Homo sapiens: one gene and its partner. The protein of the gene in region 2 purifies or fractionates together with the protein of the main gene of each other region. This does not show direct contact. Each region holds a gene or a part of one and is shown on either strand. Other genes may lie near its edges. The genes, in order: ARHGAP45 and SLC25A31.

Region 1 (3,815 bases), on a different chromosome or scaffold from region 2:
GGCCCATGGACTGTGTCCAAACCCCCCTCTCTCTCCAGCCCCGTCAGGGGACCCTCACCCTGCTCAAAGGCTGAAGCCCCGGCTCCACCGTCTGGGTCCACCAGCTCCTCCGTGGACGACATGGTACCACTGGATGACGTCCGCTCGAACTTCTTAAAGTCCCCTGGGCGGGAATCAGGACTGTTCAGACTCCCCCAGCCAGGGGGGCCCCCTCCATCACCCCGGTGGGTGATGAAACCCTGAGGCTCAGGAGAGGAGGCAGCTCCACACCCCAGCCCGCCAGAGAGCCTCCCTCACCTGCGCCAGGGCCGGGGTCCAGCCCACTGTCCGAGTCTGAGATCGAGAGCGGCCATGACTTGTGAACCTGGTGTCCTCGCCCGGCTGGAGAAAGAGGCGTCTCTGGTGAAGGGCCAGGGTGGGTCGCAGGGAGCCAGCGTCCGCCCCTGGGCCCCGCCGGACACTCACCCCTGTGGTCCTTGGCAGGTGTGCCCTCAGTGCACCCGCCTTCTTCTGGGGGGCTCCCGGCAGCCTCCGGCCGCGCCACATCACTCACGTTGAAGCTGCTCTTCCGGGCACGCATGACGGGGGACCTAGTGGAAGAAACCGGGAAAAGGAGGGGAGGTGATGGGGGGCAAGACAGCTTCATCTTCATGCCCCCGACAGAGGGAAGCCCGGCTCCCAGGCAGGGCCTTGTGCGCCGGGGACAGGGCAGCTGGGTGGCGGTACCAGGCGTTGGCGGAGACGTGGGGCTCAAAGTCGTAGTGCACATCGGGCTCCTGGTCCCGCTGCAGCTGGCGCACGTGGGAGGCGTACTGCTGGCCTGGGTCATACAGCTTGCTGCTCTCACACAGCATCTGGAAGTGCACGGGCAGCGGCGCCGTCTGCATATGCATCATCTGGTAGTAGGAGATCGTGGCCTGCGGGCGGCACCGGAGAGCGGAGGGGTCAGGAGGAGGCCGCCCGGTCCACCATCCCCGCCCGGGCGGCCGGAGCACCCCACGCACCGACTTGATGGTTTGGTCGCTCTGCCGGATGACCTCCTGGATCTGCCGCAGCGCCGTCACCTTGGTATCCTCCAGCTCCTGCTTCTGCGTCTTCGCGTCGGCCACGCAGGTGCGGTAGGTGGCCATAGCTTCCTCCGCCTGCGGTGGGGGCGGGGCGCACAGAGAGAGGCCTCAGCCCGGGGTGCAGGACTCAGACAGAAACCTCAGGGAGGCGGGGCTGACGCCTGTCATCCCAGCGCCTCGGGAGGCCACAGTGGGAGACTTGCTTGAGGCCAGGAGTTCGAGACCAGCCTGAGCAACATGGTGAGACCCTCCCCATCTTTTTTTTTTTTTTTTTGAGATGGAGTCTTGCTCTGTAGGCCAGGCTGGAGTGCAGTGGTACGATCTCAGCTCACTGCAACCTCCACCTACCGGGTTCAAGCAATTCTGCCTCAGCCTCCCAAGTAACGGATTACAGGTGCCCCCCACCCACCATACCCGGTTAATTTTTTGTAATTTTAGTAGAGATACAGGGGTTTCACCATGTTGCCCAGGCTGGTTTCGAACTCCTGGCCTCATATGATCTGCCCGTCTCAGCCTCCCAAAGGGCTGGGATTACAGGTGTGAGCCACCACACTCAGCCTGAGACCCCCATCTTTATAAAGAATTTTTTTTTTTTTTTGAGACAGAGTCTCGTTCTGTCGCCCAGGCTGGAGTGCAGTGGCGCGATCTCGGCTCACTGCAAGCTCCACCTCCCGGGTTCATGCCATTTTCCTGCCTCAGCCTCCCGAGTAGCTGGGACTACAGGCGCCCACCACTACGCCCAGCTAATTTTTTGTATTTTTAGTAGAGACGGGGTTTCACCCTGTTAGCCAGGATGGTCTTGATCTCCTGACCTTGTGATCCACCTGCCTCGGCCTCCCAAAGTGCTGGGATTACAGGCGTGAGCCACTGCGCCCGGCCAAGAATTTTTTTAAATTAGCTGGGTGTGGCGGCACACGCCTGTGGTCCCAGCTACTCTAGAGGCTGAGGCGAGAAGATTGCTTGAGCCCAGGAGGTAGAGGCTGCAGTGAGCCATGATCACGTCACTGCACTCCAGCCTGGGTGACAGAACAAGACACTGTCTCAAAAATAATAATAATTTAAAAATCGGGGCCGGGCGCGGTGGCTCATGCCTGTAATCCCAGCACTTTGGGAGGCCGAAGTGGGTGGATCATGAGGTCAGGAGTTTGAGACCAACCTGGCCAAGATGGTGAAACTCTGTGTCTACTAAAAATACAAAAAAATTAGCTGGGCTTGGTGGCAGGGTGGCTGAGGCAGAGAACTGTGTGAACCTGGGAGGCGGAGGTTGCAGTGAGATCTCACCACTGCACTCCAGCCTGGGCAACAGAATGAGACTCTGTCTCCAAAAAACAAATTGGCCGGGCGCAGTGGCTCATGCCTATAATCCCAGCACTTTGGGAGGCCGAGGTGGACGGATCACGAGGTCAGGAGATCGAGACCATCCTGGCTAACACAGTGAAACCCCGTCTCTACTAAAAATACAAAAAATTAGCCAGGCGTGGTGGCGGGCGCCTGTAGTCCCAGCTACTCGGGAGGCTGAGGCAGGAGAATGGCGTGAACCCGGGAGGCGGAGCTTGCAGTGAGCCGAGACTGTGCCACTGCACTCCAGCCTGGGCGACAGAGCAAGACTCCGTCTCAAAAACAAACAAAAAAACAAAAAAACAAAAACAAAGGTCTGGAGGTAGTAAATGTCACACCAAGCATTGGATCTCCTCCTCCAGGGACCTCCAGCCCTGCCTCCACCCGCCCTCACCTTGTTCTTGGCCTCCTCCTCCAGCCGCCGCCGCTTGTCCAGGGTCTTGGTGGCCGTGCTGCCTGCTCCCGGCGCGCTGCCAGCCTGCTCCTCCTCCGCCTTGGCCACGAGGAAGCGAGCCTTGTCGTGGTCCTCGCAGCGCTGCACGTAACCCTGCTTGGCCTTGCGCAGGTTGGACTCCGCCTCTTGCTGTGGGTGTGGGAGCCAGGAGGCCAGTTCCAACCCTATCCTCGGATGGGACTCAGTCTCCCCAGCTCCTCCTTTCCTCCCCACCCCCATCTCTCTCAGCAAGGCCCCATGGCCCAGCTGGGCATGCAGAGGACCCTGCACAACAATCGGCAGCGGAAAAACAGGAGGAGTGGCCGGGCGCGGTGGCTCACGTCTGTAATCCCAGCACTTTGGGAGGCCGAGGCAGGTGGATCACTTGAGGTCAGGAGTTTGAGACCAGCCTGGCCAACATAGTGAAACCCCGTATCTACCCAAAATTTAAAACAATTAGCCGGGCATTGTGGTGCACGCTTGTAATCCCAGCTACTCGGGAGGCTGAGGCACTAGAATCGCGAACAGCTTGAACCCAGGAGGCGAAGGTTGCAGTGAGCCAAGATTGCATGCACCACTGCACTCCAGCCTGGGCAACAGAGATTCCAGCTCAAAAAAAAAAAAAAAAAAAAGAACGGGAGGAGGCACCCGTAACAGGACACTCGGAGAAATGGGTGTCCTGTGTGCCCACTCTGCAGCCCGGGAAGCTGAGGTGCAGCCAAGCTCTGCACAGAGGCTCACACGGCAGCCTCTGCAGACACGCACACCAGCCCCCACGGGAGCGTCTCCGGGCTCTTTTGCTTTCACTTCCCTCCTCACAGACGAGAACAGAGAAGCCGCCCAGGCAGGAAGCCAGGCGCCCACAGGTTGGCAGGAAGAGCACTTAGTCAAAAACCTGTGGGCTCGGGGGCCACACCTCACAACCTGCACCATCAGATTCGCACACAAACAAACGGACTCATCCAATTACTAGGAGA
Region 2 (3,815 bases):
GCCACCCACAGAACTGAACACAAGGCTCCAGATTTAACGGGGCCAGTTGTGTGACCGCTGCAATCACTCAAACACTGAAAAAAGACTCACATAAAGATATTTTATTGTGAAATATAAGATCATCAGGGATAGAAAGAAACTAAAAAGAAAAAACATATACTAAAGGATCCGGAGTAAGCAAATTGGTATCTTAAGAGCAACATTAGAAACTAGAAGTCAGGGTAATATTTTCGTAATTGTGAAGGAAAATAATTTTAAACTCAGACTTTCATATATGTCTTACCCTTTTTGAGAGGGTAAGACAAACACTTTTTTTAAGATATGTAAGAGCTCAATTTATTTTTTTTCACTCTTTCTCAAAAAGTTACCAAAGAATATACTCTACCAAAAAACAAGGGTGTAATAACAAAAAAGGGAAGATGTGATATTTAAGTAAGGATAGAGGCAAAGGGACTCCCTAGGATGAGATTTGTGCATCTAACCTAGAAGGGAGCCACAGCTGAGACAGGACTAAGTGCATGGAAAAAAATCTAGGAAGGGCTTTCTAGGAAAAAAAAATGGGACTAAGTTATAAGCAATTTTTATGTTCACTTTTTTTGTTACAACAGGCTTTCCCTCCTTCCCTTTTTTAAGGGAAAAGAAGCAAGTAATATACTTTAGGCCCTATGACTCCACCATTTGGTTGAGAACAAAGTTCGTAGACTTTATCTGGTAACACTATTATAGCACAATTAATGCCAATAAATAACAGATGGTTCAAAATGCAAAGAAGGAAAAGTTAGTATTTCTAAAAATCTCATACCTTTTCCAATATCGACACCTAATCGGGTTCGGGCAAAATCTAGAGGATATACTACACATAAGGATGTTGCCCCAGCAGCTCCACCAGAAGCCAGGTTTGCCAAAAACCACCTCCAGAACTGAAACATATTAATTTAAAAGTGGTTATTAAACCACAGAATCTAACTGTTTAAAATACCTGGTAAATTCTTATTTTTATAAATGTTAAAACACCAGATTTATAAGCCACTTTTATAAAGTAAACATCTATAATAATGCATACCATGCTATCCAAAATATTTTATTTTTATAGCCATATAGCTTTTGTTTCATGCAGTCTGGAAGACACAGTTTAGATGCTGACATACTGAAATTCCAGGATATTTTAATGTTCTCCAGCAAAGCAGCCCAAATTAGCAAAAGAGGTCGCATAATCATCTCTTTACGCTGTATACTTTTTTTTTTCCTTAATAGCTACATAATTCTTAATAATAGTGCTTGCTATGATTACAATGTCAGGCACATATGGAGGCTTTAGTTGTGCCCTTTTTCTGTGAAGGGTGAAGTAAGTAGTATTATGGCAAAAAACTGCAATTACTTTTTGCACCAACCTAAAATACTTCACAATGCCCCAGCTTCACTTTGTAATTTAAATAGAATTAAATTTGAATAGCTCAAAAATACGTATTTAATTATGTTCAAATGACAACATGGAGATTGGCAGACATCAATCATAATGTAGTTGTATGGCATTTAAGTTAGGCCTCACTGGTCTACTAGTTCACATGAGCTATTGAAGAAGTATAATTACTTTTGATCAACATTTAAAATGTGCCCTCCCCAGGTTCAGCAAGATGCTTTTCAACATCTAGTGCTTATGCGAGAAGAAAGGAGTATCTGAATTGGAGCTGTTATGAAAAATCCAGGATACGAGGCCACTGCAAGCACTTAATACATTAAAGTGAATAATATGCTAGTCAAGCTCAATTTCTTGCTTTATTTTCTGGTTTTTATTTCTAACAATAAAGTGTCAGACAGCTTTGCAATTCTCAATGTTCTCTAGCCCTGGAATGCTCTTCCTTTTTTAAACAAAAAAATAGTTATTGCTTCATGCTCTAATTCAAGTTCTACTTCTTTCATGAAATATCTGATCTCCAACCCATCTATTGAAACTGTATATGATCATACCCTCTTCCCATAAATACTTCATCTCTGTCAGAGAATTAAAGTTGAATCCCATGACCAATACATAAAATGTATTAACATGTTATAGACTCTTTTTTTTTCTGAGATGGAGTCTAGCTCTGTCACCCAAGCTGGAGTGCAGTGGCGCGATCTCGACTCACTGCACAGACTCTTATTTTTTAAATATCACTTACAACCATTTTCTACTTTCAATTTATAATTATTTGTGTACATTTATACTCCTACAGACTATAAATTTCTTTTTTTTTTTTTTGAGACAGAGTCTCGCTCTGTCGCCCAGGCTGGAGTGCAGTGGCGAGATCTTGGCTCACTGCAAGCTCTGCCTCCTGGGTTCACGCCATTCTCCTGCCTCAGCCTCCTGAGTAGCTGGGACTACAGGCGCCCGCCACCACGCCCAGATAATTTTCTTGTATTTTTTTTTTAGTAGAGATGGGGTTTCACTGTGTTAGCCAGGATGGTTTCCATCTCCTGACCTCGTGATCCGCCTGCCTAGGCCTCCCAAAGTGCTGGGATTACAGGTGTGAGCCACTGCGCCCGGCCCAGACTATAAATTTCTTGAGGCCAGCATTATTTTTCCTTAACAGCTTTACTAAGTATAATTCACATATCATAAAATTCACCTATGTAAAGCGTACAATTCAATTGTTAATATATTCACAGAGTTGTGCAACCATCACCACAGCTTAGAATATTTTCATCACACCAAAAAGAAACCCCAGGCCTGTTATAAGTCACTCCACATCCTCCCTACCTCCTTAAGTCCTAGGCAACCATTAAACTACTTTCTGTCTCTATATATTTGCTTATCCTGGACATTTCATATAAATGGAATCACATAAGACACACTCTTTTTTGACTGGTTTCCTTCATTTAGCATGTTTTCAAGGTTCATCCATGTTGCAGTACATATTAATACTTCATTCCTTTTTATTGCCAAATAATATTCTATTTTATGAACATTATCTACTCATCAGCTGATGAACATTTGGGTTGTTTCCATTTGTTTGAGGCCAAGATTCTTAATTCCTCTGTTTATTTCACAGAGCAAGTCAGGAGGTCTTGCCCAGAGATATGTATTAAATAAGTATTTGTTTAATAAAGTGTACTGGTAATGCCACTTACTGTTCCCAGACTCCCATGGATCTTTTTAAGTAACACTCATCAGTTTTATTGTATAAGCAGCATGTCTCATCATACAGAAATAATTAGATCAGGAGATTGCATCTGACATAAGGGTAGTTAATCCACAGTGTAGTAGATGATTGGTAACCTGGTAGAAAAAGATGAGCTGGGCCAGAGCCTCTTTCTTGGGAACTGAACTTTAAATATTCAATACTAGTTATCAATAAGGACAGAAAAGGAAAAGTTAATGTCTTAGACTTTTTGGAGACTGTTTAAAGCTATAGATCCTCTCCTAAGAAAAATTACACATGTATGAACATATATTTTTAGAGTGTGGGGTATTCTGGAAGCATTCACGGATCCCAGGTTAAGAACCTCTGACCTTTAGAAAGGCCAAAAAGGATTACTATGGTACAAATATTGAATTTAAAGGAATAAGAAAATATCAGTAAGTAAAAAAAGTAGGCAATAATGAGAAAACAGAGCAAACACACACACTAAAAGCAGGTAATTAGAGAGAAAGAACAGGTGACTTGGGAGAGAAAGATGAGAGTATAGTTTGGTCCGTAGAGGTGCCTGTGGCTGAAATTCAAGTGCCACTGTATCATTACAATAAATCATCTTTTTCCTGAGGTAATCTGAGTTAATCTCTGCTTATGAAAACCAAGCACATCAACCAAACAAAATATGTGGCATAAAGATTTATA

Evidence for each region.
Region 1: the proteins of SLC25A31 (region 2) and ARHGAP45 purify together in Homo sapiens (co-immunoprecipitation; one large-scale study listed by IntAct). This does not show direct contact.

What each region holds. Positions count from the first base shown.
Region 1 is NC_000019.10:1,077,030-1,080,844, reverse strand, and holds part of ARHGAP45 (rho GTPase-activating protein 45 isoform 1 precursor), read right to left. Parts: intron 3,450-3,815; exon of another isoform or gene 3,079-3,449; coding exon of another isoform or gene 2,989-3,078; coding exon 2,800-2,988; intron 1,143-2,799; coding exon 1,005-1,142; intron 918-1,004; coding exon 727-917; intron 591-726; coding exon 466-590; coding exon of another isoform or gene 382-465; coding exon 298-381; intron 164-297; coding exon 59-163; intron 1-58. UniProt on the Homo sapiens protein: Contains a GTPase activator for the Rho-type GTPases (RhoGAP) domain that would be able to negatively regulate the actin cytoskeleton as well as cell spreading.
Region 2 is NC_000004.12:127,761,348-127,765,162, reverse strand, and holds part of SLC25A31 (ADP/ATP translocase 4), read right to left. Parts: intron 1,834-3,815; exon of another isoform or gene 1,625-1,833; intron 921-1,624; coding exon 803-920; intron 1-802. UniProt on the Homo sapiens protein: ADP:ATP antiporter that mediates import of ADP into the mitochondrial matrix for ATP synthesis, and export of ATP out to fuel the cell.